Linked DNA regions of Homo sapiens. The protein of the gene in region 1 purifies or fractionates together with the protein of each later gene. This does not show direct contact. Each region holds a gene or a part of one and is shown in the gene's direction. Other genes may lie near its edges.

Region 1 (7,483 bases):
ACTGAGATAAGCAAGGATAAAGGTTTGGAGGCAAGGCAGACACCACAATTCCTGCTTATCTCAAAGGCCTTAGGAGATAAGGGCATTCTGGAGAAGCTGACCTCAGGTAATTATCACAGCTGAGCTGAGTCTTCACAGCAGCTCCGCAAGAAAACCCCAAGGAGGAGGGGGCGCGCTTCCCCACAAATCCCCTGAGGACTTCGGCCCATTGTTCCCTGGCCAGAGGGGGGTCACCTGGTCACATCTGCAAGAAAGAAGATACGGAGAGGCACTAACAACCTGAACCACAGTGGGGAATCTCCTCATAAGGAACAAGGGGGGCACGGATCTGGGGCAGGCCGTTAGCAATGCCTGTTGCAAGCCTTGAGAGCTGCTTCAACATCTCTGAAATGTTTATGCAGCAGTAGGCCTGGCTCTCCACGCAACCCCAGGGCAGTAAAGAGTGGAAAGTTACAAAGGACTGACTTGGCTAGAAAGGAACCCACATGGGATAAACTCTCAGAGGAAATCCCATCACTGTCAATATTTGAGCAGAACCCGAGACATCAGGTGGCAGGAGAGTTGCAGAGATTCTTCAGCCCCTGGGCGGGCACTCAGGCCACATCCTCCCCAGGGGGCCCTTCCTGCTCCACAATGATATAATTTTACATGTTTTGGAAGGAGAATGTGTGCATGCCTGCCTACGTGGCCTGTGTAAGTGGCATTGCGAATATTCTCCCTGTCAATGGTAACACAGAAAAGTTGATAAAATGGCCAGAGACAAACTTAAAAATTGGTATGTGTTAAAATAATATTAATTCTGGTCCTGTAAGTAAATTGCTTATGTTCCGTTTTGCCTCATTTCCACTACAAGCAATGATGATTGTGCACGATACCACATCTATGTGGCATTATGGATACTGTCTGGGCGGTGAGTCCTGACCCGCCTTCCACGAGAGGTTTGTGTCTGAGCTTGCCATCCCATGTCCCCATGGGAATGCACCTTCTGATTTACACGAGCGCACCACAGGCTTCCTGCTCACGCTGGATGGCCCTTAGTGCATAGAGTGATCCGTCACAGAGGCTGGAAGCGGAGGGAGGTTTAGAACCATCTGGCTCAGCCCCCTTACTTTGGAGGCGAGTAAATTGGTGTTGGGAGGAGCTGACTGGTTCCCGAGGGAGGATCTGGCAGGTTGCTCCCAGATGACCTCTGTGCAGGAGGGGAAGCTGTGAGCCCCCAGACCCTCTTAAGTATCTGAGTTCTGGCCTTTCACTGTACCCTTGGGCCTTCATGAGGAGGGTGTCAGGTTGCTTGAGATCAGCATGAGCACCAGGCCTTGCCACACTGGCCAAGCAGGAGGCGGGCTTCGGCACTGGCTCCCCTGCCACCCGCCCGCGTGTGCCAGTGGGCTGTGAAGTCACCTGGGCTGGGGGGGCCTCCCTTGTGTGAGCTTTGGTTCAGGCACTGTGGACAACGGACTCTAGGATGGGCCCCAAGATTCCAAGCCCCTGGTGGACATGTCTGTCCCCTTGAGTGTGTGCAGGGCTGGGACTGTGATGGTGTCACTCCTGAGATCAGGTTATATTACATGGTAAAGGTGAAGGGATTTTGCAGATGTAATTAGGGTCCCTTGTCCATTGACTGTGAGTTGAGCAAAAGGGAGATTGTGCTGGGGGTGTCTGCCCCAATCAGGTGGGCCCTTTAAAAGAGGATCTAGAAGTCAGAGAGCATCTCTCGCTGGCCTTGAGAAAGCAAGCTGCCCTGTGTGAAGGGGCCTTGAAGAGCTGACAGCAGCTGCCCACTGACGCCAGCAGGAATGGGGACCTCAGCCTACTGAGGGAACTGAATTCTGCCAACAAACATGTGGGCTCAGAAGAGGACCCTGAACTCAGAAGGAGACCCCAGCCTGGCCAGTGTCTTGACTGCAGCCTGTGGGACCCTGAGCAGCGAGGCTGAGCCCCGACTCCGGGCCGCAGGAGCTGTGAGGCCATAACTGCGTGTTACTGTAAGCCGCCGAGTCAGTGGGTATGTGTTACACATCCAGAGATAACTACACAGGCATCGACCCTGTCCACCCGGGGATGCTAGAGGGGCTGTGCTGGTTTTACTCCAGGCCATGGTGAGAGCCACTGTGAACACAGGGCTCTCTCCTCTGAGCTGCAGAAGCTCTGTGCCCTGTCCCCTGCCACAAGTCACAGACTTTCTTCATGTGTTTTACCTCATGTTAATGAAGGAGATCTTCTCCAGGGGCTTGATCTAGTGGGAAACAGAGGAGGGGGGGATTTTAAATTTCAGTCCGTCCAACCCTGTAGATCTGCTGTCCTACAGTAACGTAAAGGATCACCAGGTAAAACGCTGCTTCTCCCGGACGCCGCCACCTTGCCCCTCTCTCTCACATGGACACTGGTGCCTGGGTTGGGAGTATGGCCGGTGACTTCGTGGCAGTGTGGGGAGGGGATGTGTGTCCTTACATCTGTGAGAGGTCCTCGCTTCCCCGTGGTCTCTGCTGAAAATGTCTGCCTGGACCGCCAGCCTCTGAGGCACCTTGGCCCTGCCTGCACCAGCTCCTGAGCCTGCCTGTCTTGGTGTCTCCTTCTGCTGTCCCGTGCCTGGCCCTCAGGGCCTCTCTGCACCGTCACCGGTCACTTCTGAGATCTTACGCATGTGCATTGCTCAAAGGGTGGCTGGGGTGCCACGTGGCACAGCTCTGTGCTGTTTGGGGACTGGCTTGGGGTCTTTGAGGGGTTTTCGCCTTCTAGGGAGTCGGGACCCTCTCTAACATGAGCGATGGGCTGTGACATAATCACAGTTGAGCTTAGCTGATTCCAAAACTCCCTTCTCCACACAAGGCCTGGCTTTCAAACCTGTTGTCTGACTGTAGGTACAAACCTCCCATTTTGGGTGTAAAAAGCTGGTTCTTAACCATTTTGTCTTTTTAATTTTTTTTTTTTTTTTTTTTTACTTTTTGAGATAGTTTCACTCTGTTGCCCAGGCTGGCATGCAGTGGCATGATCTCAGCTCACTGCAACCTCTGCCTCCCAGGTTCAAGCAATTCTCCTGCCTCAGCTAGGATTATAGGTGCATGCCACCACACCTGGCTAATTTTTTTTTTTGTATTTTTCATAGAGATGAGGTTTCTCCATGTTGGTCAGGCTGGTCTCGAACTCCTGACCTCAAGTGATCCGCCCAGCTCGCCTTCCAAAGTGCTGGGATTCCAGGCTCGAGCCACCGCGCTGGCCTCTTTTTGCATTCTTGCTATAAAATTGGTATTTGTATCTTCCTCCCATTCTGCGCTCCCCCAACCCTGCAGGAAGGTGGATTCTTCAAGGGAACTGGAGAGAAGAGAAGCACATTCATGTATTTCCACATTCAGCCTCCATCTCACGAGTTACACCATTCCCAGCACGTCACCACCCCCAGACCTTTGGTTACCAGCCTGGGGGCAGAGGATAAGGACGTCATTCAAAAATAGAGAGATTCTCAAGCCTCCAGAGTGCGGGGGCCCAGCCGAGCATGCTGGCGGCTTCCAGGGAGGTGGCCACGCCCCAGGGGAAGTGGTTGCATGGAGGAAGAATCTCAGAGGAGGCTTGGACGTGGTAGAGCAACGCTAGTCCTGTGTTAGGACTGGCTAGTCCGTCCTGCAGGGATGAGGGGCAGAGCCTCAGCAGAAGTCCAGGCCAGTGTCCCCCCTCCAGCATAAGAGCCCCCCACTCCCACAGGGCGGAGGAACCACTGTGGTGGCGGAGCTTATTTCCCAGCAGCCCCGCGGGATGAGACCCAAACGAGAAGTTAGGGTGAGTTTGGAGGACATAAAGTGAGCTGGCTTCCCGTATACTGGCTGTGTGGAGTAATGTTCACGGCAACAGATTTCCATCTCCTCAGCCTCAGGCCCAACCCTGCTACCCCAGCCATACTCAGAGGCTCTGGAAATCTTACCTGGAGGAGACTCTTCTGTTACCACCAAGCCAGGAAGTTTCATGGCTTGGGAAGACCAAGAGGAAGTCCACCTCCCCCTCTCCTGCACCTGGAGTCTCCCATGTGCACGGAGGCCACGCCCCCACCCCGCCCTCAGGTGGCATCAGCCCAGGATCTGACCCTGGACTGGCTCACACTCAGTTGCCTCTGGCCAGTGCAGGGCTCAGCCAGGGATGGCTTCTAGCTGACAGTGGGAGGAATTAATTCATCTGACCGGAATATTCTTTTCTCTTCTGGGCTGTTGGTTTTTCAAGTGCAACAAAGATTCCATACAGCTCCAAGGAAGGAGCCAAGAAAAACATTCTGTGCCAAAGTGAGATCCTGGAAGTGAAACCCCGGAATAAAGCTGAAAAACGGGCTCCAGTTGGGTGCCAGGAAATGCAGGACTGGAATGTGACTTGACTTCCGGCAGCGCGCAGGTGCTCCCGGGTCACCTGCTTTGAGGTCCAGCCTCCTGCCCTGCCTCAGGTGACCACATGACCACTGTGGACTTTGCCCTGAAACCTTCTGGGAGGAGAAGAGGCCTGACCTTGGCGCTGGGGTCCAGTGGGCATTGCTCTGGTCCGAGGCTGCTGCTCTTGACCTCTGCTCTGCGGCTGTTTTCCATTGGAGTAGAGGCTCCTCCTGTCCTGTCCTGCCTGTGGAGGGAAGCAAACCTTCCCCTGGACCAGAGAGAGGAGAAAGCGGAGACAGGTAGCAACGCTGTGGACTGGTGATGACAGGCTCTTCAGCTCCCTGCAAGTGACCGGGCCTGGGGAACAGGTGAGTCATTGTTTAAACCTCTGTGCCCTTTGTGGAGTGTCTGCCTGTGTGTGTGTGTGTCTCTGCTTCTCTGTGTGTGAGTCTCTGTGTGTCTGTGTGTGTGCTCACGTGTTTGTACCCATGTCTGTATTTGTTTGTGTCTGTGCATGTGCCCATGTGTGTATAATCAAAGGACAAAGCTGGGGCGGAGACTTCCTAGTTCAGATTTCTGATGGCTCACTAAGTCGGATTCCCAGAAGGAGATTCTTATTTGCATTTTTCTTCGGGAAAGTTCCGGTTTTAAGGTCTTGAAAAAAAAAAACACAAAAAACTTCTGGTAATGAGAAGAACTCTTAAAGAAATCCATTTCAAATGACATCAACATTCCCAATTTAATACCCAGTGATATCTAGGAAGCTTGTCAGGTTTTCTTGTAAACTCCTTTTTACAATCTACATTGTGTTTTCTGTATCAGATGGCTGTATTCTGAATGCAATGTACAGGTGTACCTCTCGTAATCTCAATATTCTTCACAGGCCCCAGGCAAGGGTGACACAGGATCACAGTTGCCGATAGACTCATCAATCAGACCCTTCCCTGGAATGGCCCCTTCCCCGCAAAAAAGACTAATGTGGGATTTGCTCTCCGTTTTTTTTCCCTTTAGTGGAAGGGAGGTGCAAGAGATTAAAAAGCCCCAAGTTAAGATTACTAGAGAAGCGCCAGTCTTGAATATGGTGTTCCTGAAAACATCTTTGTCTTCAACAACCTAATAACATCTTTCACTACTAATAACCCCATCTTGATTAAATTCTGGAGGTGGGGGTCAGGTGCCACACTTTTAATTTTCTCTTTGGACAGAAGGCTCCAACCTCTCATTATTGAAAGCTTACAACACTCAATCACACAAAAAGTTATATAAGAAAATGTTTACTGCAGTCTTATTACAGAGAAAAAATTAAAACTAAGTAAAAATCCAGTATTAGGAAAATGGTTCAGCAAGTTGAGATAGTTGTAGAAATGTTATATGTCCATTAAACATGATTTTGAAGCAATGTGTGAGACTGCCTTTGGTATTAAGTATTTCTTACCCATCGGATAATAATTTTATGTTAAAACTATGGGTTTTGGTTTGTTTTTAGGAGTCATAGAAAAAAACTAGAAGTAGGCAAAAATACCATTTGTGGTTGTATTACGGGGGTGGAGTTATGGGTAGCTGCTTCTTTTATATTGACACTTGTATGTTTATAGTAAAATAACCTTTTTTTTTGGAGACAGATTCTCGCTCTGTCACCCAGGCTGGAGTGCAATGGTGGGATTTTGGCTCGCTGAAACCTCTGCCTCCTGGGTTCAAGCGATTTTCCTGCCTCAGCCTCCCGAGTAGCTGGGATTACAAGCGTGTGCCACCACACCCAGCTAATTTTTGTATTTTTAGTAGAGATGGGGTTTCACCGTGTTGGACAGGCTGGTCTCCAACTCCTGACCTCAAGTGATCCACCTGCCTCGTCTTCTCAAAGTGCCTTTACAGGCATGAGCCACTGCGCCCAGCCCAAAAATAAAATAACTTCATTAAACAAAGAGACATATCATTGTCAAAGGAATGAGACGCCGGCATCCCAGTGGTCATGGTGCATTCCTTCAGAGTCCACCTGTTTCAGTTAATTCAGACATGTTTCGGGCTACAGATTTTTTGACTTAGGAAAGGTTTTATTAACCTATGCAAATAAATAGCAAAGAGAACTTGAAGGGGTATCTCTGTTTATTTTAAATTATTTTTTATTTCAATAGATTTTAGGGGAACAGGTGGTATTTGGTTACAGGGATATGTTCTTTAGTGATTTCTGAGATTTTGTTGCACCCCATACCAGAGCGGTGTACACTGTAGCCATTGAGTAGTCTTTTTTCCCTCACCCCGCCCCCGCTACCCTTTCCCCTTCCACCAAAGGGTGGAAAGTCTGGGCCGTGCCTTGACCTCTGAGAGCCTGTCCCCAGCTGACTTGAGCGGATCATCTGCTGGACTAAGTTCCCACCCCAGGCACTCTCACTGTGCCTCAGATGCTGTCTTAGTCTGTTTGTGCTGCTTTAACAGAATTCCTGGGACAGAAATGTATAAAGAACAAAGATTTGTTTCTTATGGTTCTGGAGGCTGGGAAGTCCAAGGCCAAGGGGTCTACATCTGTTGAGGGCCTTCTTGCTGTGTCATCCCACAGTGGAAGGTGAAAGGGCAAGAGAACACGCAGGCTTGTGGATGTGCAAGACGCAGCAGTGTTAATCTGTGCTGGGCGTGGATTAACGAGGGCAGAGTCCTCATGACCCAACCCCCTTCCATTAGGCCCCACCTCCTAGCATGGTTGCACTGGGGACTAAGTTTCCAAATCTGCTTTTTGGAAGATCCATGCAAACCATAGCTGGCCCCAAGAAATCATCCTCAATCCAGGTGGATATTTCAAAGCACAGGTGCTGTGTTATGTGCTCTTCATGCTTGGCCTCATTCATTCATTTCTTAGGAATTAGTACTTACTATGTGCTAGACACTGTTCCCAGCTCCAAGGAAAACAGAATTCTAGCAGTGATTCCTAGTCTTGGCTGCATACTGAGATCACCTGGAGAGCTTTTCTTTTTCTTTTTCTTTCTTTTTCTTTTCTTTTTTTTTTTTTTAAGAAACACAGATGGAAAACTTAATGTTATGTTTTTTATCCGTCTCTGAAGCCAGCATCATACTTGATGGTGAAACTTGAGTATTTCCAGCTAAGATGGGGTTCCAGGCATGTTTGGGATAACCACCCGAGT
Region 2 (7,915 bases), on another chromosome or scaffold:
GAAGTTTGTTCCTGGAGTAAGGTTATTTTACTGTTCGCCAGCATGTGCGTTCCCTCTCTGAGAGAGGACTAAGCTGCTCTTCCCTTTGAAATTAGATACAGCCATGTGACTTGCTTAAAGCAGAGTGATGTGTGACACTTCCAGGAAGAAGCTGTAAGAGCCAGTTTGCTGTTTGCCACACTCTTTTTCCCTCTTGGTAACCACCAATGTTCTATGTGGATATTCGCTGCCCTATCAGGCCGGGACCCAGAGTGAGGGCAACACTGACCAGAAACAAAGTTCACAGCTAACTCTTGGATATAGTTTGGATGTTTGTCCTCTACAGATCTCATGTTGAAATTTGATCCCCAGTGTTGGAGGGTGGTGCCTGGTGGGAGGTGTTTGGGCTAAGGGAACAAATCCCTCAGGAATAGGTTGGTGTTATCCCCTAGGTGACAAGTGAGTTTTTACTGCATTAGCTTATGCAAGAGCTCGTTGTTTAATGTGACTTCCCTCCTCTCCCCATGTCATGCCTGCTTCCCTCTGCCTTCTACCATAATTGGAAGCTTCCTGAAGCCCTCACCAGAAACAGACGCTGGTACCATGCTTCTTATACACCCACAGAACCATAAGCCAAATGAACCTATTTTCTTTATAAATTACCTAGTCTCCATTATTCCTTTACAGCAATGTAAAGCAGACAAATACACCTTTCCTGGACATGTAGCCCAAATGAGAGAATAAACACTTGTGATTTTCAGCCTTTGAGATATTAGAGTTATTTGTTACAACAGTACAATCTAGCCCAGGCTGACTGACACAGCTGTCTTAGTCTGTTTTGTACTTCTATAGAAGGAATACCTGGGGCTGGGCAATTGATAAGAGGTTTATTTATCTCATTACAAGAAGCATGACATTAGCATCTGCTCAGCCTCTGGTGAAAGCTTTTGTGCTATGTCAAGATATGGTGGAGAAGATCAAAGGGGAAGCTAGCATCAGTACAAAAGGGCCAAACTGGACAAGTGTCCTGGCTTTATAACAACACACTTTCATGGGAACTAATCCCTTCCCCTGGGAACTTGCTCACTAGCATGAGAACAGCACCAAGCCATTCATGAGGGATCTACCCCCATGACCCACACCTTCCACCACTGCCACACTGGGGATCAAATTTCAACATGAGATTTGGTGGAGACAGAAAAACCATATCCAAATCATAACAGCCATCTTACAGGCAAATCAAGGATATGGAATCTGCCATTTAATGTACTTATTGTGAGCCTATTGTGCATTAAATACCATGCTAGGTGGTATGATTACAGATGATTTAGATTTGGCAACAGCCCTCAGAGGGTTTATAGTGCAGAAGGCATATAAATAAACAATGTCACTCTGTTGTAATTGCCACTATTAACAAAGGGTACTATGGAAGGGAGGAGTCCACGAATCCTGTATCAGGGAACCAGCAAGAAACGGCATACTCAGCTAAAAGTTTTGAAGGGATATTTTAATGAAGTTTTAATAAAAAAGTAACTGCTGCTCTTTACCATTAAGAGAGACTATTTTGGAGGTGTGGGCAAGGTTAAGGTGGGCGGGCTGAGGGGGGCAACAGGAATGCTGAGGCATCCAAGGACAATCAGCAGAAGAAAGCCAATCCCACCCCAGTCTGAAGTGAAGAAACAAATGTGAGAAATAGTGTTACTGGACTAAGTGGGAGGTGGAATCATGGCGGAGAGGCCAGATGACACCAACTACAGCTGTAGCCAGAGCAAAACAGGGGAGATCAGGAAGAATAGATAATCCAGCTTTTCTCTCCTCCTGCTCTCTGATCTCCTGCCATGCTCCCTATTGGCAAGATCCACCTGGAAACCAGAGGTCAGGGCACCTGGATGATGCCATCAATGCAGTTGGTAGAAGTCAATCTCCTGGTCCTCAGAGCAGGGTGGAGAAGGATCTGGAGGGGCAAATAAAGACTATCCTGAACAAGGTCCTCAAAAGAGAAATGATAGGAATAATTGATACAATATTTTTTGAAACTTTATTGCTTCATTAAAATGCTTAAAATTGCAAGGAGAGTCCACAGTTACTGATAGAATGGGGATAGGTTTGAATGAATATTCAGATGACTGGACACTTGAGGTTCCTATTAGAAGAGACAATGGACATATGGCTGGAAATCACATCCTGGATCTTTTTTTGAGGGGGAGTTGGGAGATGAAAGTCAAGTGCGGAGAAAATGGGTAGGGAATAAGGAGAAACATATCTTCCTGTCAGCTGGAGAACAGATCACTAGAGATAAATTGTAAGGTGGGAATTGCATCATATTTTTCTGACCTAGTCTCAAAAGCCATGCAGTATCACTTTCACACTGTTACAAACAAGTTACAAACTGACCCAGATGCAAAGGAAGGAAAGTTAATTCCACCCCTTCTGGAGAAAGCAAAATTCTATCATAGGGCTGAATAATACAGTAGCCAGTAGCCACACATGGCTGTTTACACTTCAATTAATGACAATTTAATAAAATTAGAAATTCAATTCTCAGTCACACTAGCCACATTTCATGTGTTCAATAGCTATGTCAGGACATGGAATATCTCCATTATTGCAGAAGTTTCTATTGGACAACACAGCTCTAGAACATACGAGACAGGAAATATTGTTGCAGCCATCTTGCAAATACAGTCTGCCACCAGGACCTAGGCAAACCAAATTGTATTAGAGAAGATAGTGCAGTGGCTCACAAGACATTGTGTACAAGGGTTGGCAATAACTGCTGCTGTTTATCACTAAGAGAGTACTTGGGTTAAAGTCTCAAAGAGAGGATGTATATGCCTAGGGGGCTAAAACTAGGGCCAATAGGAGGGTATCACAAAAGAGAGATTTCTAGGACAGTATGTTCCATGAGGCTCTTTGAGCATGTGACAAAAAGCCACCATTCCCCAGGAAAAAAAAATACAGTATTATGCATTCAAGTTCAGGGGTCTACAGAACCCTCCAAATCAATCCATGGACTTGTCACATCAGAGCCCTACTGCAGGCTGTGAGCCCTTGAAAGTATTTCCTTATTCCCAGCCATTAGCAGAGGATTCGGCCCTGATGACACTTAATCACCATATGTTGACAGAAAGGGGCACTTTTTTGCTGAATACAAGTAAGAACTTTAATAGGTGGGGAAACATTTAAGTGGACCAGACAACATCAGGAAGCCAGAAAGTTTCCCAGCACTACAGGAGTCCAAGTAGATGTATGATAATATGGAGAGGATTTCAGCCTTCAAACAGAACTGAGTAAGCCTTAGGTCTTGCCTTGGAGACCCAAGTTCTATAAAAGATGACAGTAAAGCCCAAGTGAAGGGATGATCACATACAACTTGTATGAAGAGGGTGGAATCTAGAGAGGCTCCAAGGAGCTGGTGACATTCTTGGATCAAGTTCATATGTCAGATGGCTTCTTCCCTGAGGTTGAGTCCTCTCTAGAAGGCTCTTCAAGCCTCATACATACAAAAAAAAAAAAAGTTTTTATCCTTCTCTCCCCCATACCCAGTTTTCCTGATAAATCCAGACATATCTAAACTTAGCAGTGGACAGAGCTTGAACAGTCCTCAGTTGGTCTTCAGGCCCCTTGCAAACAGACCTCTGGCATACTTGTCTCATCAGTTTCAAACACACCCCAGATACACTTTCATCCCCTACAATATATTTTCTGAATTTTGAGTATCATTGTGAGAAATTCACATTGAATCTAAGGCTAAAATCATCTCAGCTTTTCTGACAGTCCCACTGCACTTGTAAAAGTCAGTTATATTCAGTTATTTTTTCCTCTCCCACTATTCGGTCAATTCTTCAAGATCAGGAGCTATATTCCCACTTCCTAAGCATGCACTTGGCAGCTGTATGTTCCAGCCGGTGTTTTATTCTTGCAATTCCACAGGGACAGGGTTTTGGATACAACAGGCTGGTTTGAGCATAATTATTCTTAGTACATAAGCTCATTATTGTGTGTGTTATCCAAAATCTTAAAGGACTACAGCACTCTGCTTTTTATAGAGAGGAAGAGGCACACCCCACCATTCCTAACACATACTGAATCTTGACTGAATGACTGTAGAAAGCAGATTGCCCTGGGTTTGAAACCCACTATCAGCTGTGTGACTTCGAGAAAATTACCTGGTCTCTCTAAGCCTCAATGTCCTCAGTTGCAAAAAGGACATTCTATTCATACCAGGATTGTTTTAAATAACATTTAGCATGGTGCTTGGTGTATAAGAAGCATTTCAAAAATGTTGTCCACTCATTCTGTGACTTCTCATATACTCTTGCCTTCTCCACGAAAAAAAAAAAAAAAAAAAAGATTGTTAATATCCTTTTGGGGCACAACTGGAGAAGTGTATCTTGAAAGACCTAACTGACCGTTTTACAACCACAATCTGCACTATGGTGCACTGAGTGATGTGAGTCATGCAAGTGTAGGCTAAATCTTTTTATTTAGAATGTTGATATTTCACGGACTTCTGAAAATTTATTACGATTTTTTGAAATATTACATTAAAAAATTACTTACTTTGATAACCGCAGTTTACCTGGCACCCTCTTAAATTTTGCATCCAAGGCAGTGCCTCATTCGTTTGGCCCTTGTCCTGTCCTGCCTACTGTCACACCACGACCTAAATCTGAGACTAGAGCAGCCAGAAAAACTGGAAGGAAAAGAACCCCGTTCCTTACCTGAGTTTACCCTTCTGCCCTAGAGCGCTACCCCGGCCCAGGAAAGTGGGCACAGGGAGCGTACTACAGCTCCCACAAGGCCACGCGGGACTGCGTCCTCGCCTATTGGCTGCGCGGGTCCCGCCCTCCCCCTGCCCCTCCCCGCCCTTGCTGGGATGACCCCGGGGGCGAGTGCCCGGCCAGTGTGCTCCCGAAGCGGGCTGCGGTTCCGCTCGTATCAGGCTTCATGGCGGCGCGGCCACTGTCCCGGATGCTGCGGCGGCTTCTGAGGTCCAGCGCCCGGAGCTGCAGCTCAGGGGCTCCGGTGACCCAGCCCTGCCCCGGGGAGTCCGCGCGAGCTGCCTCGGAGGTGAGCCCACCCCGCCTGCGTCCACAGCTTCCCGGGGCAGGAGTGGCCCCGGCACACTGCCCTTTTCCCCCAGTAGCTCCCGGCCTATCTGCTTGACCGCTTCTGGGAGGGACCCGTTGGCACTCCTCAGTGGAGCGATGTTCTCCAGATGGACCGCCCGGTCTCACCCGCTAGCCCAGCGGGAGAGGTTCCTGGGAGTCCCGCTTCAGAACCTCCCTGCCCCCCAGCCACGCCACCCCTTCTAGCCCTGAGCTTGGCCAGAAATTCGGGTAAGCAGAGGACTGGGACTTTGGGTCCAGTGAGGTGTCTTAGTACCTTTCAGCCTTGCCTTGCACCCACCCTCTTTCTTAAACATTTTCCCTCCCTATCCCAAGAGCTGAGAGATCAGGTGTCCCTGTGACACCTGCTTCATAGTGCGACTGACTAAACATGTCACCTCGGTGTCACCAACGATGAGTTGTTACTGTAGTCCCAGGGCTCTGTAACCCATCCTTTGCTGACTCTCCTTGTCTTTTTTATTAACCTTGGGAGGGTTCAGCCTTATCCTAGAGCAGAACAGGGCAGGACGTGGCTTCTTCCAGGTGAGAAATTAATTCCTCTGTCTTTAGGGTTTTGGGTAAGATCCCTCAGTCCTTGCCAGCACCCCTCAGAGTGTTTCAAGTCATTAAAAGTTTTAGGTTTTGGTTGTTCTTCTGCTCAGGTGGTTAGGGAATAATTTGGGGGGAAAAGTACCTCTTTTCATTTAGTGAAACCTCTTTTCGGTACCTATCTAGGCGTTTTTTTCCCCGTCTCCCAGAACTAGGCTTCCTGTCCTGGGATTCATAAGATCACTGCTCCCTCCTCCCCTATATTGCTCAATGACTTCCGCCAAATTTGCTTTCCCCAAATCTAAGCCCCTCTGGGATCCTCAGATAAGCAGGCCCATGGTTGGGAAGTGAAGACTTTTTAGTATCCTCAAACTCTGAACATCATTGAGGAAGAGATAGGAAAGCAAAGATGGCTGAGAGATCTTTAAAGAATTCAAGAAAAGGGACTTTTCTTCTCCAGCCCCCCACCCCCTAGTTTATTTTGTACTGGTCTTTCATGAGAGAACCTGTGTTGAGTGACTCACATGTGGAAGCATTTAGTCCTCACTAAGCCATGTGAGGTGAGTAGAGTTTGTATGTTCAGATGAGGGGGCTAATCTAAGTTAACTTTCCTCCAGTCGCAGAGCTGTAGAGGGCAGGAACTCAACTCTAATGCTTTTCCGTCCTCCCTGTGTGGAGGCCAGGGAGAGAGCCTGCTCCTATCCATCCCTTTACACTGTGAAGGGAGGGGTAATGTGGCAGAAAGGAGAACATAGACTCTGGGGCAGCCCCATCCCTTATTAGGGATTCACCAAGTCCCCTTACCTCTCAGTGTCTGTTTTCTCATCTGCAAAGTAAGAATAAAAGTGTCTACTTCATAGGATGTCACAGGGATTAAAAGAGTTAACGTATGTTAACGTATATACTTAGAACAAAGCTTAGCCCATGTAAGTGCTGTGTTATGTAAATGTTGGTGGTAATTACTATTATCCATGCTGCCACTGGCACATGCTCTGTCCTGTGAGTCCCCTCCCATCTGGACTTGTTGGATAGCTATTCTGTCAACTCACATTGAATCCTGGACATCTCATTAGGATTATCTTCAGCAGACTGGGAGTTCCTGAGGGCTGGGTGCACCTCCGCCTTTCTATCCCCACAAGCGCTTAACGCAGGGTTGTGCAGGCAGTGGATTCAGCCAATAATTGTAGCTGCTTGAAACTTAACTAGTGAGGAGTCACGTGGCATAGTAGACCACACTGGACAGGGAGTCCCATGTTTTCACCCGCCAGTTTCGCCTCCAATTTCACCTGGCTCCTGGGGCTGTCACTTCCCTTTGCTTCATGTTTATAAAATGAGAGGACTGGGCCAGCCCATCATAAGATGGGGGAGGGCACAGAAACTTGTCTTGAGGAGACTCTAAGGGGAGGTGAGTCTGGAAATGGATATGTTCTGCTCATCTCCAGAGCTTGCCAGTTGGGGTGGGGACACCTTGAACCCCTTCTTGCAGGGTCTGTCTCCCCCAACACGCCCACACAGGGCTCTGGTAGTCTGGTTTGGGATGGGAGGTGCTTGGAGAGCTAGGATGGAAAGCCACTGGGCATTGTTTGTGTGGCAGGATGAGGGTGTGAGGGAGAGAAGTGAGGTTAAGTGGGAGCTGGCTGTGAGGATTGCGGAAAGGGGGCTGTGGGCTGAGTCCAAGAACAGGTCGAGTAGCTTCTAGCTATGGAAAGGAGTAGTGTGTGGGTCAATGGGGAGGTGGGTGGGGGAGACACAGCAACCTGCCAGCCTGCATCTGGGGTGGCCCAGACAATCTTTGTAGGGTTCAGCCTAGCCTGGGAGTGCTGTATCCCTCTTTCTCCCTCTGAGGCTCCATGCAGGCTTTGTTGGGCAACAATGAAGCCTGCTGCCTGTGGCGGGGGAAGCAGGGAGGGTGAGTCTAGGCAAGGCAAAGGCACCCATCTGTTCAGGGGGCCAGAAAAAACAAATGCTGGCTAGGGGTTAGGCTGCAAGGAAGTGGGTGTGGGTGAAGGTAGAAGGAGTACAGCAGGCACTGGTGAGGGAGAATGAGGGGGAGGAGGGAAAGAGGGCTTTCAGGAGGTCATCTTGACTTCCAATCTGCCCAGCTCCTCAAAATCCATGTTTCAGCGAAATGTGACTGTCCTCCTCAGAAGCTATAGGTGTAAAGACCTCACACTTAGGGTGGGAATGAGGGGAGGGGGAAGGAGAATCGAGCTAGGCTAGGCTCTTTGTTGGGTCCTCTCATTTAAAAGAGATTAATTTTAAGAGACCCTTAGTAT
Region 3 (7,037 bases), on another chromosome or scaffold:
CAGCAGAGCCAAGAACTCAACAGAAGAGCAGTCAAGATGGAAGTTATAAGATCTATATGATAATATTGACATGCTTCATACATAGGGGAATCCCTGAGATCATCACTTAGAACATATTCATCCTCATTTTAAAAATAATTCTAGCAAGCTCAGCATATTAGAACCACCCCCTTAGAAGATACAAGGAATGTTATCAACTTCTGCAAAGACTATGTTTGGTGGGGTTGCTATTAGACATACAAATGACAGTTTGTATAGGAAAGGGAAGAGAAAAACACCTAAAATGCAAACTTACATCAAACATCACAAAGGCCTGATAACATTTAGTGTAGTGACAAATACTCATTTTTCAGGTCATTCAACCCACATTTACTGAGAACCTAGTCCCTTCCCTTGTGAAGTTTACTGTATTGCCTATTCTCAGGAACGTTCTGGCCTTCCTAACAGTCATATCCCCAAAGCTGTTCTTAAGACAATGTAGGCTTTTCATTGCATCCTTCTTTCTTTTTGAAGACCATGTAGACATTCAGCCTGCATTTTTTCTTTTTAAAAGCACACTGCTCACATCTTTTGGAGTTCTTCCCCTAAGATGGGCTGCAGAGTAGGTTAGCTTAATTTTTCTACTGCATAGGATAAACACATATATTCTTTTGATTTAAGAGTTTTATTGTTAGCCAAGCATGGTGGCACGGGCCTGTAATCCCCATTACTCTATAGGCTAAGGCACAGGCATCCCTTGATCCTGGAAGGCGGAGGTTGCAGTGAGCTTAGATGGCACCACTGCACTCTAGTCAGAGAAACAGAGTGAGACTGTCTCAAAAAAAAAAAAAAGTTTCATTGGCCAGGTGCAGTGGCTCAGGCCTGTAATCCCAGCACTTGGGGAAGCCGAGGCAGGTGGATTGCTTGAGCTCAGGAGTTTGAAACCTCAGCCTCCCAAGTAGCTGAAATGGGTGACACAGCAAAACTGTATTTCTACAAAAAAAATACAAAAATTAATTGGGTATGGTGACACGTGCCTGTAGTCCCAGCTACTTGGAAGGCTGAGGTGGGAGGATTGCCTGAAACTGGGAGTTTGAGGCTGCAGTGAGCTATAGTTGTGTCACTGCACTTCAGCCTGGGCAACAGAGCAAGACCCTATCTCAAAAAAAAAAAAAAGTTTTATTGCTAAAGATTATGGGGAAAGAGAAGGGATAGCAAAGATAAACATGGAAATTATAAGGAGTACTGCCCCTAAATCCTGATTATCTTGCTAGATAGTGTTTAGCACCATACAGTAGTAGATGTGGCAGCATGGTGTATGATAATCACATGACCATCCTATTGTGTGATTTTGGGAAAATTACAGAATTTCTTGTGACATCATTTAGTTCATCTGTAAAGTGAGAAATTTCAATAGATGATCTCCAAGGTAGGGATCTACCAGCCCTAAAATTACCATTGTATATATCTATTTATGACACCATGTCCTTGAGAAAAGGCTAAATTCTGTTCTGTGTAGTCTTTTTAAGAAGGAAAGTCAGTGTTTCATATACTTCAGAAATTTTCCTATAAAAATGGCTGATAGGGTTTAGATATTTGTCCTGCCCAAATCTCATGTTGAAATGTTATCCTCGTTGTCGGAGGTGGGGCCTGATGGGATGTGTTTGGGTCATGGGAGTGGATCCCTCATGGCTTGGTACTCTTCTTGTAATAGTGAATTCGTTCTTGCAGGATCTGGTGGTTTATTTTTTAATTTTTTTTTTGAGACAGGGTCTTGCTCTGTCACCCTAGTTGGAGTGCAGTGGCACAATCATGGCCCACTGCAGCCTTAACCTCCTGGGCCCAAGCAATCCTCCCACCTCAGACTCCTGAGTAGCTGAGATTACAGACATGCATCACCATGCCTGGCTAATTTTTTTTTTTTTATTTTTGTAGAGATGGGGTCTGCCTATGTTGCCCAGGCTGGTTTTGCACTTCTGAACTCAAGCAATCTACCTGCCTTGGTGGCCCAAATTGCTGGGATTACAGATGGGAGCCACTGTGCCTGGTCGACTGGTTGTTTAAAAGTGTGTGGCATCTCCCCACACTTGCTTGCCTTGCCTCTCACCAAGGGAGATGCCTGCTTCCCCTTTGCCTTCTGCTATGACTAAAAGCTCCCTCAGGCCTCCCTAGAAGCCGAGCAGATGCCTGTACCATGCTTGTACAGCCTGCAGAACCCTGAGCCAATTAAACCTCTTTTCTTTATAAATTACCCAGTTTCAGGCATTCCTTTATGGCAACACAGGAACAGCCTAATACAGTGACTGATTAGAAAAGGCATTTTCTTAAAAATGATAGGCTGCTTTTTTCAGAAAAGGTCACTTAAGTAGCCTTTCCTTGATGTTGGGATGTTCCAGTCCCATTCCTTGATGTTGGTGAATTTAAACATTAAGGTAGTTAACCTTGACTGGCAGCTCATTGACTTATGATGATGTTGGAATAGCATCACTTCTGTAAGCCTTGGGGGATAGTAATATTGCAGGAGGAGTTGTGAAAACTGATATTTACCAAATATCTGTTTGTGCCAGCCTTAACACAAGTGATTTCCTATATTTCTAACTTAATCTTCTCCCAGGATGCCTGAATGTGGTTCTCACATCACAGGATGTCCATAGTCCTCCCTGTGTACTTCCAAAATCTTCACATCTATTGTCTACAGTGGATTTTTAAAAATTGTAAGATGCCACCTATTAGTGGATCATGGAGTGAATTCCAGCATTATAAAAATGAGGTAGAATATATCAGAATGCATGTAGTAAGGATGAATGTTGTTTTTTATATATATATGTATATATATATATATATATATATATATATATACACACACACCATATATATAACATATATATATATATACATAAACACACATACACACATATGTTTTTGGGGAGGGCAGGTTCAAAAAATTTAAAGCATAGAGTATATTGATCAGCTGAATGACATAGTGAGTAGGAGTGAAATGGTATTTCAAAAGTCCTTTCTTTGTTGTCTTCTCTTTTGTTCACCAGCTTGCATTATTTATCATTTGTTTTCCTCATAGTTTTTGGAACAGATTTAGTATCGGTCTTATTTGAGGTATAGTATGAAACACTCCGTTGTCAGCGTAAGAGATGCTATAGGAGTGAAAGATAGCCTGCAGATTTTGCTGTTCTGAAAAATGCTTTGCACTTCTTCAGGCATTTATTGATGGAAAAGTATGTTTTTGTTTGCTTCCAATACCTAGAAAAGTAAAGAGTTATCTAACTCTGGAGAAGACTCTCTGGGAGATGCTTACCCTTCTCTGTAAATCATGAATTTGAGCCAATACCTCAGAGAGAGCCACATCTGTTGCCATAATTTCCTCTGCAGCATCATTTTCATCTCCCATGCCTCATGTCATTTTTCTCATTTTCTCCAGTGTTTTCATGATGTTTTGGATAACAGGCTACAGTAATTAAATTCAAATATGGCAGCCCACCATTACATTCTCATGTTTAACATAAAATCCCAATGCACAGAAACAATTATAATTCCATATAATTGACCTGTTAACTCATGCTAAATCATCTGCTATTCAGTCTCAGTGCATTCTTTAACTAAAAAGTTAGTCTGTGCCTGTTCTGTATATAAATATATTTAAAAGTAAAATAGGCTAAAAATCACTGTTGGTGCTCATTGGAAACATTTTGGGGGCGTTTAGTTGTGGCCAGCAAAATAGGGATACATTGAAAGGTTGATGTTTTGTTTTTGCTTTTCTAATAATTTCATTTAAGGTTTGGTGTAAAAAGAGTTGATAATTTATCACAGATACTGCTTTTTTAGAGCATGATTATGAGAGCTAGCATGTTATCATATTGAGGGTGTTTTTGAAAAGAACAGTTTGCAAACAGACAGGAGAAGAGACCAGAGGCAGCTTGGCCAGTATGGTGCTTAAATAAGTGTTTCATCTCATACTGGATTTTATCAGGAGCTGAAGTTGGTAATGTATTCCTTGACTGATTTGGTTTTTATCACATTTTAAAAAGTACTGGTGAAGCAGGATATTTTCCTGACCCCTTCATGGGACTTGTGAAGGGAGCACCCTGTTTACTCAGCCCACCGCTTTCAACTCCTCATAGGAGGGAGCACGTGAGTGAACAAGGCAGGAACTGGAATACATGAGTGCTGGAGTCAGCCTGCCGCTCTTGTGCCAGGAGGAATGAACTCCACTCACTCGGACCTGCTGTGTTTCACCCCTCACAAGAGGGGATGTGCAGTTGAGTGGGTGCAGGAGCCGGGGCGAGTGCTTTTGGGCACTGGCAGGAGTCAACTCTGTGCTGGCCCTGTGGTAGCATCTCCGGGGGTGGTGCCTGCAACCCCTGAAGCTCCAGAGGGAATGTTACAGTGCTCTTTTAGCTCTGCTGTCCGCAGACGGCTTAAGGGTTAACAGCTCAGTGGGCCCTCTGCCTTTTTGTGTTAATCGGCTGCCTTCTACCAGTGAGGGCAAAGGGCAAGTGTGACAGCCTTTTTGTGTCCACACTCATCGTTCCCGAGCTCTTGTCCGGCATCCAGGAGAAATGAGGTCACATGAATGAATTGAAGGATGGTAAATGTAGGGGATCTTATTGCTGATGGAGATGGCTCTTAGTGGGAAGGGGAGCTGCAAAGGGCAGGAAGGTAGTCTTCCCCTGAATGCCAGCTGTCTCTGGCCAGATTCTTCTTCGAAGTTACGCTGTCAAGGTGTCCCTCTGAAGTCGAGCCACTTCTCTCTGATGTCCAGCTGTAGTCTCTAATGTCCAACTGCTTCTCTTCTCTCTGCTGGCTGAGCCTGGGGTTTTTATGTACACAGGATGGGGTGTGGGGTGGGCCGTAAGTGGTTTCGGAAAAGGCAACATTCGCACGGGAAAATGGGGATATAAGTTCTCACTTTGCGTCATGGTTTCAGGCTTGAGGGTGGGGTTTTCTCAGGGACCTGCCCTTTTCTGCCTAGAATTTCCCTGCCTCCTGTCCCTGTCACTCACTAACTTCTACTCTTTCTTTTGAGTATTCTCACCTGTCTTTTTTTTTTTTTTTTTTTTGGTCTAGGCCAGTGTTCTCATTGAGTTATTATGGCTACTAGTTAATGGTGGTTTTAATCATTTTATATTGCTTTGAAATGTTTTGAATCATGTTTCTGTGATCTGACTTTGCACATTTGTTAAACTAGTCTTATTTATGTGGATTTAAAATCATCATGAGAAAATTTACACAAGCTAAAGTATAGAGAAAAAGTTTTACACATGGATATGAGGCATATTAAGAAGATGCTGAGCTGTGAGTTCAAATCCTTATTTTCTACACCTGTGTTACTTTGGTTTAAGCTATGTAAGCAAAATCAATGATAATTAGAAAATTGTTTTTAGTACCTACAACACACTGTCAAACACATGAAAAATATTGTCTAACATTTGTTATATGCCAAGCACGGTGATAAGCCCCTACAATGCATTGTCTCATTTTCACAGTAACCCTGCAGTAGATACTATATCATCTCCATTTTTCAAATGTGAAGCCTGAGGCTCAGCTAAGTTTGATGTAGGTGAAACAGTTAAGACGAAAGTTTTTCTGACTAAGGTTGAGGTATTAGATTAAGTTTGCTAGAATCTTTCAATTGAAAAAATAGCTCATAGTATCAAGATGAGATTATTTTAACCTGGGTTTGTGGTTGGCAGTTGTTTTATTTTGGAGAGTTATCATTGTTGACATTAAAATCCTGATTCCAGCAGTAACCTCATGATGTCAGCTTCTTATTATTGACAGCATCATGACATCTGTGTCAGCTTGCAAACCTTCTTTTGATGAAGGTGAACGGAATGACCTGGTTGTGTTTATCCCTTAAAACTGAAGAGAGAATCAACCACTAAAGCAATGGCCAGAAATGGGATCAGAGATTACAGTTACATTTTAAGAAATGATTTGCTTCAGTAGGAATTCTTCATTGATCCTGTAAACCAAAATAATTTAGATTACCAAATTAATTTAGAAAGTTTATTTTACCAAGGTTAAGGATGCACCTGTGGCACAGCCTCAGGTCCTGATGACGTGCCCCAGGCGGTAGGGGCACAGCTTGATTTTACATGTTTTAGGGAGACATGAAACATTAATCAACGTTTGTAAGATGTATAATTCATTGGTTCCATCAGGAAAGGCCAGACAACTCGAAGTGGGGAGGAGGCTTCTGGGTCATAGTTAGTTAAGAGACAAATGAGGAATAGTCACTTATGCCTTAGTCTGTAGTGAAACAGTAGGGCGGAGGAAGCCATCAGATACGCATTTGTCTCATGGGAACAGAGGAATGACTTTGAGTTCTGCCTGTCCTTTGGTTGTCCACAAGGAATTTCCTTATGGGCAAATTGTGAGGGAGGTATGTAGCTTTTTAAAAATCTTTGTAGTGATCTTATTTAGGAATAGAAAGGGAGAGAGGTTTGCCCAACACAATTCCCAACTTGACTTTTCCTTTTGGTTTAGTGATTTTGGGGAGATTTGTTTTCCTTTCACAATCCCAAGGTACATAATTTCCCACTGAAATACTTGTGCATGTGCTGGGGTTTGCCATTTTGTGTCTTTTTTAGTGTTCTTCCAAATTAAATTTTCAAGATCAAATATGGGACTCATTGTCCTGTTTATGGAGCTTTTTTTCTTTTGGTTGACTATTCTTTTGTTTCCTACAGTCTTCAACAACTGTTAGTGCTTACAATGGATACATCATGCATCTTAATTGATAGGATGGATATGATAATACCTTTTTTGGTCCAAGGTCCCGCTCATTAAAAAAAATAGTTTATAAAGCTGAAAAGTTTTTATTTCTATTTTTTGTAAAATGATTTTCATGATAGGATTTTATATAAAGGGGAAGGGTTTTTTGTATCATTTTTATAACATTTTTGAAATGAATACTTATTCTCTTTCATCATCTATTTTAGACTCACAGTTTTATGAGTAATGCAGTAAAGGTCATGTGGCACATTAGTAAAATATGTTCTGAACACAGAAACTATTCTCCTTATCACAAATTAAATTTT

Evidence for each region.
Region 2: the proteins of RAB17 (region 1) and MOCS1 purify together in Homo sapiens (affinity purification with mass spectrometry; 3 studies listed by BioGRID and IntAct, with this or other methods). This does not show direct contact.
Region 3: the proteins of RAB17 (region 1) and CHM purify together in Homo sapiens (affinity purification with mass spectrometry; 3 studies listed by BioGRID and IntAct, with this or other methods). This does not show direct contact.

What each region holds. Positions count from the first base shown.
Region 1 is NC_000002.12:237,587,701-237,595,183, reverse strand, and holds the start of RAB17 (ras-related protein Rab-17), read left to right. Parts: upstream 1-4,449; 5' UTR 4,450-4,717; intron 4,718-7,483. UniProt on the Homo sapiens protein: The small GTPases Rab are key regulators of intracellular membrane trafficking, from the formation of transport vesicles to their fusion with membranes.
Region 2 is NC_000006.12:39,931,432-39,939,346, reverse strand, and holds the start of MOCS1 (molybdenum cofactor biosynthesis protein 1), read left to right. Parts: upstream 1-4,884; 5' UTR 4,885-4,929; coding exon 4,930-5,052; intron 5,053-5,123; exon of another isoform or gene 5,124-5,321; intron 5,322-7,915. UniProt on the Homo sapiens protein: Isoform MOCS1A and isoform MOCS1B probably form a complex that catalyzes the conversion of 5'-GTP to cyclic pyranopterin monophosphate (cPMP).
Region 3 is NC_000023.11:86,037,528-86,044,564, reverse strand, and holds part of CHM (rab proteins geranylgeranyltransferase component A 1), read left to right. Parts: intron 1-7,037. UniProt on the Homo sapiens protein: Substrate-binding subunit of the Rab geranylgeranyltransferase (GGTase) complex.